Linked DNA regions of Homo sapiens. The protein of the gene in region 2 purifies or fractionates together with the protein of the main gene of each other region. This does not show direct contact. Each region holds a gene or a part of one and is shown on either strand. Other genes may lie near its edges.

Region 1 (3,500 bases), on a different chromosome or scaffold from region 2:
AGTAAACAAACTGGATTAAATTGCCAAAATAAGGAAAATATCTCTGTTAGGAAAATTAATGGTACTAAAGCAAATGTTGGTTGCTTCAAAAAATACACCAACATAGAATATGAAAATGTGATTCTTAAAATAGGCTCACTTGACTGTACAAATTACTTTAATTCTTAAAATGTATTGGGCTTATTAAAAATTGGCTATTTAATAGTAAATTTTATTTGCTTGAAAATCAATCCTTTTTTAGGCAACACAAATAAATTTAGGAAGAGAAACAGATATAAAGTATGCGCTTTAACCTATAGGCAACCTCTTGAAATGAATAAAAAGCTCACAGTTGTCTCTTTGCAGGGACTTGTTCTCCTATTTTTAATTAAGTGGTATTGTTTTAGATTTGGTAAAGGTTTTTCCTCACTTCAGGGTTACACTAAAAAGCGGAGCACACACGCACTTTTAGTTTTCTTCACAGTTATTTGAACAAAATAATTTCAGGCCACTGCAGCAAAGATAGTTTGTAAATTGTGATGCCAGAAATGTAAGAACAACTACCAAAAATATAACAAGTGAAATGCCTAGATACAATTTTCTATTTCATTCAGAATCTAGCTATATTGAAATGGGGCCACTGTAAGATTCACACATTAAGTCCTCATCTTTATAGCTAATATTGATGTTCCTGGGGGACAAGAATTATTTAACTCTGAGTCCTTTGATAGGTTATCCTTGAGTTGGATAACCACTATTTTTACAATAAACAGGTTGCTAGCTAAGAATGATCCAAGAATGAATTTATATTAGCAATCTTGGTATTGAAGTATTGAGGAATGAGAAATTAAATGTTTCATAAAACCTAAAAAAAAGTTCTTATGGTAGACAGACAAAGATAAAGTTCTTATGATAGATGGACAAAGATAAAGCTTACTTTTCTGTGTTACATAGCTTAACCTTTACTGCAATTTATGAGGTGGGACAGATTCCAGTTTTTACTAAACTTTTTGTCGGAAAACATAGATCACAGTTATTATGCAAAACAATGAGACACATTTAAAAGTGACAATTTTCCCGTGAGAATTCCCTGTGCTTTCTTTGACCACTCAACAAAACACATTACTCTTTCTACATTAATTCTACCCTGTAGCATGTTTTAGAACTTGTTTATTCTATACATAAACACACACTGGTTTTCCCTGAACCATGTTGTAGACATTTTTCCCCAGAAAAAAATTTCTATGGTTGTTGAATTTGTAGGTTAGTAACAGGCTACATACAAATATGCTTTTTGTTTTCTTTAAATAGAATACAGAAATAGTTAATTTGAGACTTACCCGACAGTTCACAGCCAAGAAGTTCCATTCGCAAAGTGCAATGTCTTCGACAAACTTGGGGATAGAGTCTTACATACTGAGCTTTTATGGGGGGTGTGAAAGAGTTAGCATATGGAGTGTTGTTATCAATGTTTCCACGAAACACCTGTGTAAAAACAGTTTAAAATTATTCACTGCAACAGCTTATTTACCTATTTTTACATATTTACCCTATCTATACCTTATCGAAAATAATTGTTCGAAGAACAGATTACATTATTTGGGAGCATGGAGCATTTGAGAAGTGCCTTGCCATGAGCACTGAATATAAAACCCAACCATAAACTCCTAATTAAAGCCATAAACCACTGTGGCTCATGACATGATCTATATTCCACTGTGATGGTCTTGTCAATTTTAAGGCCAGTCTTTCAGAACCAGGGCAGCGCTCTTCTCTTTTTTTGAGAAATGGACACCTTAAATCCTTCAATTTAATCTGGGACTGTCTGCTCATTTTCCTACTTAGTATTCATACTTTTGGGGGTAGAATCCAGTCTTTGCTACTGCTTCCGGATCATCCAGTCTCTCTAATGCTATGATTAGATTTATGATGCTTTAAGGTTTGACTCATGAAGATTATGTCTTCATCAACCAGTCCCATGTACTTGGATAATAGAATTCCTTATTAAAATTTCCAGCTAAAAACTATGTTTGCCTCTAAAATTCAAGTACTATAATGTGTCATTGTAAATTCATTAAGGCTTATTCTTATTTTACCTTTTATGTAAACCTGATAATCCAAAAACCTTATTTAAATTCATTTAAGGGGGTAATTTTAAAAATATTTTATATAATTTATTAGAGTCTGGTATAATGCCTGATTAAATGGAATGATCTCCAGTCCTGATATTTTTAAAATTAAAATTTTCGATGAAGAACTAACAAAAGAATTGAGAATATCATAAGAAAAGAAAAGGAAGTATTGAATATAATATTCAATACCTCTAAAATATTTTATTTTGCTAAGTAACAAATCTTTCTTCCAATATGAAGCATATAAAGATATATATCTCTTCTATCACTTAGTGCTTTTTTGCTTTTAAGAAAATAGTTTTCATTAATATAATAGTTATCTCATTAAGGAGTGCGTTAATCAGCCGGGCGCGGTGGCTCACGCCTGTAATCCCAGCACTTTGGGAGGCTGAGACCGGTGGATAAGGAGGTCAGGAGATCGAGATCATCCTGGCTAACACGGTGAAACCCCATCTCTACTAAAAATACAAAAAATTAGCCGGGCGTGGTGGTGGGCACCTGTAGTCCCAGCTACTCAGAAGGCTGAGGCAGGAGAATGGGGTGAACCTGGGAGGCAGAGTTTATAGTGAGCCGAGATCGCGCCACTGCACTCCAGCCTGGGCAACAGAGTGAGACTTTGTCTCAAAAAAAAAAAAAAAAAAAGTGCGTTAATCACGAAAGCAATAAAAATGTATCATTAAAATAAAGCTTAATTGTCATACAAAAGACTGTGTCCACCTGTGTCAAAGTATTTGTAGCACCACCAATTAAAATCTGTGAAAATCTTAAATGTCAGCCATTTTAAGTTTATAAACTGGAGAATTACTACTTCCTTCATCACACTAGCCCAATTAAAAACAAGACGCATTGGTAATTTATTTTCATCAACATAAGTCTTCTCCTGAAGACCTTGTCATTTGATAATCAATAATTATCAATGACATTTTTCTTTTAAATTAAGTAGGTTAAATTATTCTTACCATGTCTTCATTGGTGCCTTTCACTTTGTACATTGCCCAAGTCTTTCCATCATTACTGTAGGCAATTTTGTAGGATTTTATATACTCTGGGCTTCCAATCCTCTTGGCTCCTTGGGTAATCACACCAGTAACTCTCATTTTCCTTTGCAAATTTATCTGAAAAGACGAGCACAACCAACAATAATCTTATTGTTTTCAGGATAACAATACTGAAAATACGAATTTTAGAAATGAAACATTGTTAATGCAGATTAATAATAACATAAAAAGCTAATAATTTTCATGGATAAATGTTTACAATAGGCATATATTAAATTTAGCTTCAAAATCCCTTTCTGTAATGGAATACTATTTTTAAGTAAACAAATATTTGTGAACAGGCTTTGAAAAGGGCAATGTGCCCCAAAAACATAAGTATAGAAAGCATCTG
Region 2 (3,500 bases):
TCTGCCAGCAGTGGCAGAAAAAGTAGATGCTCCTAGCGGAGTTGGAGGTCAAGGACAGGACAGTGTCACTGTGGGATCCCTGGGCAGACGTTCTACCTATGGCAGGTGGTATGGGGGCGTTAAAATATATTAGACCAGCATTGGTCAAGGGCTGAAAGCAGCAGCTGGGACATTGTCTATGACATGTCTCCCTCCAGAAAACAAGAAAAACAAGTGAGACAAAGAGAAGGAATCATCTACTGCTATGTGGCAGGTAGGGGCAAGGGACCTAGTAAATTTGGACAAACTGCCAAGTATCATTGTTACTTAGGATGCACAAATTACACTAATAACAACCTTAGAAGGTAGATATCGTTACACTAATAACAACCTTAGAAGGTAGATATTGTTATCCCATTTTACAAATGGATTCAGTATGGTTAATGATTTGCCAAGGCCTCCCGGTCAGTAAGCTGGAATGCAGACACAGTTCTGTCTGTCCCCAAGTTCATGCCATGTGGTTTCCCCATACCAGAACCATCCATCACTTTATACCAAACACCATACTCTGAAGTCTCCCAATGACTGGTCGTCAGAATTTATACTGCCCGTTCTCCCGCAGGGCCTTAGCTGTGAGATTTGTGGCTTCTGTGGAGGCCTGAGTGCAGATTGTAGCTGAACAGCCGTTCTTTCCATATCTCATTCCATAACCCTATGGACTATTTTAGAAGGCTAAAATAGCCTTCTAAACCTTTGTACAAACCTTTGTAGGTTTGCCACCTACAAAGATGAGAATAAGTGTGAGGGGAAATGTCCATTTGAAAATTAATTATAAATATCACAACGTAATGCAGAGATTCATAATGAGAACAAGGTCACTCCTAAAGGGTGAAAATTGGTTCTTGGCAGGTGGCAAAAAAATCTAACTTTTTTATTGTTTAAAGCACAGATATACATATGGTTCATATACAGATATATAGTATATTTGTGATATTAAAATTTCATTGGTAAGTGATTAGAAAAAATGTGTAAAATGACTCTTTGAGGGAGAGAAATGAAAAAAGGTGCATGGGGTGTGGGCGAGTGGCACTGTTGAGTGTATCCTAGGTGCCAGAAGTAGGCTCTCATTTGATTTTAATTCATCGTGAATAGTAACCTGCAGAATGTCCAGAGCATCCCTTTTTTCCCTGCTGTCCCCTTTGATCAGTAGCCTTATAGAAGGGACAGGGGCATGGGGACAGGAGCTACAGTTAGAGACTTCAGTTTTCTTTTCTCTCTCTTTTTTTTTTTTTTTTTTTTTTTTTTGAAGACAGTCTCACTCTGCTGCCCAGGCTGGAGTGCAATAGCGCAATCTCGGCTCACTGCAACCTCTGCCTCCTGGGTTCAAGCGATTATCCTGCCTTAGCCTCCCCCAGTAGATAGGACTACAGGGGCGTGCCACCACACCCAGCTAATTTTTGTATTTTCAGTAGAGACAGGGTTTCACTGTGTTGTCCGGGCTGGTCTCAAACTCCTGATCTCATGATCCGCCTCCCTCGGCCTCCCTAAGTACAGGGATTACAGGCATGAGCCACCACACCCAGCTATGGAACTTCAGTTTCTGATCATGCTTGAAGCTGTGGAGTGACCTTGGGCAAGCTCTGGTGCTTCCTGGAGCCTGGCGTGCCTTATCGCTATGATTTATGTCCCTGTTTGGCATTGCTTTGCTGATTTTTTGCTGAGGAGGGCAGAGGGCTCTTGGGCCAAACATCTAACAGCGGTCAAGCAGCCTCAAGGATGCAAGAGCAGGAAAGTAGAGGGTCAAAGGGAGTAAACATAGAAGAGGAAAGCACAGACAGAAGGGCAGAAGGTGGGATTTTAACATAGTGCTGTGGCCAACGGCCAACGGAGGCGCTGGAGGCAAAAGCTCTTCACACAGTCCCCCAAGAGGCTCACTGTCTTCAAAGAGCAGACCAGAAGTCCTGCTGGGCACATTACCATCATGGTGACAGGCACATGCTTTAAGAAGTAGGACTGTCAAGGTTGCCTGTTATCCAAAGCATTTATTAAGTGCTTAACTGAATGTGCTCTGTGCAGTGCCACATCCACTAAATGCTAAGAGTACCATGTAAATGCTCCCTAGCATTAGAATCTAATTAGAACTTTCATAGTTGGAAGGGCTTCTGCTCTTCAAATATTAGTTGAAGGAGTGTTTCCTCACTCAGTAAAAACCTCAGCCAGCTGCAGTGGCTCATGCCTGTGATCCCAGCACTTTGGAAGGCTGAGGCAGGTGGATCACGAGGTCAGGAGTTTGAGACCAGCCTGGCCAACATCCCCGTCTCTACTAAAGATACAAAAAATTAGCCAGGTGTGGTGGCGGGCACCTGTAACCACAGCTACTTGGGAGGCTGAGGCAGGAGAATCGCTTGAACCCGGGAGGTGGAGGTGGCGGTGAGTCGAGATAGAGCCATTGTGCTCCAGCCTGGGCGACAGGGCAAGACTCTGTCTCAAAAAAACAAAACAAACAAACAAACACCTCAGTGGAAAATCCTGTGACATCTTTAAGAATTTCATCCTGCTTTTGCTAATAGGGGTCATTCTAGGCTCCCTCTCTTCAAATTGTTTAATTGGCTTGTTGAGGTGAATTAATAACATATGTCTATTAATTGTTTTAGCTGAGTTCAGCATTTTCTGTTATGGATTATGGATTAACAAACCCAAATGTCTGTGGAATCACACTGTTAACATAAATGAGGGAAGCAGTCTGAATATAGGGCAAGATGGAGAGGTGGAGACTGGGGCAAACTGGGGTCCTCATGTCTGATCTAAAGTGGACAGCTACTGCTCAGTGCCACAGACTGCAAGCCTAAGGTGCTGGGTTTTCAGTCTTTTTTTTTTTTGAGATGGAGTCTTGGTCTTGTCACCCAGGCTGGAGTGTAATGATATGATCTGGGCTCACTGCAACCTCTGCCTCCCAGGCTCAAGCGATTCTCCTGCCTCAGCCTCCTGAGTAGCTGGGATTACAGGTGCCCACTACCATGCCTAACTAATTTCTTGTATTTTTAGTAGAGACGGGGTTTCACCATGTTGGACAGGCTGGTTGTGAACTCCTGACTTCAGGTGATCCACCTGCCTCGGCCTCCCAAAGTGCTGGGATTACAGGCATGAGTCACCGCATCAGGCCCACCACCCCCACCCCCATTTTTTTTTTTTTTTTAAGACAGGGTCTCAGTCTGTTGCCCAGGCTGGAGTGCAGTGGGGCAATGATGGCTCACCGCAGCCTCAATCTCCAGGGCTCAGGTGATCCTCCCACCTCAGCCTCCTGAATAGCTGGGACTACAGGCATGCATCACCACACTAGGCTAATTCTTTGTATTCTTTTTTTTTTTTTCTTTTTGAGACGGAGTCTCGCTCTGTCTTCCAGGCTGGAATACAGTGGCGCGATCTTGGCTTACTGCAACCTCCACCTCCCAGATTCAAGTGATTCTCCTGCCTCAGTCTCTTGAGCAGCTGGGATTATAGGTGCATGCCACCACACCTGG

What was found. The genes of interacting proteins can lie anywhere in the genome.
Region 1: the proteins of CDKL1 (region 2) and EDIL3 purify together in Homo sapiens (affinity purification with mass spectrometry; one large-scale study listed by BioGRID and IntAct). This does not show direct contact.

What each region holds. Positions count from the first base shown.
Region 1 is NC_000005.10:84,063,381-84,066,880, forward strand, and holds part of EDIL3 (EGF-like repeat and discoidin I-like domain-containing protein 3 isoform 1 precursor), read right to left. Parts: intron 3,227-3,500; coding exon 3,071-3,226; intron 1,465-3,070; coding exon 1,320-1,464; intron 1-1,319. UniProt on the Homo sapiens protein: Promotes adhesion of endothelial cells through interaction with the alpha-v/beta-3 integrin receptor. Inhibits formation of vascular-like structures. May be involved in regulation of vascular morphogenesis of remodeling in embryonic development.
Region 2 is NC_000014.9:50,386,882-50,390,381, reverse strand, and holds part of CDKL1 (cyclin-dependent kinase-like 1), read left to right. Parts: intron 1-3,500.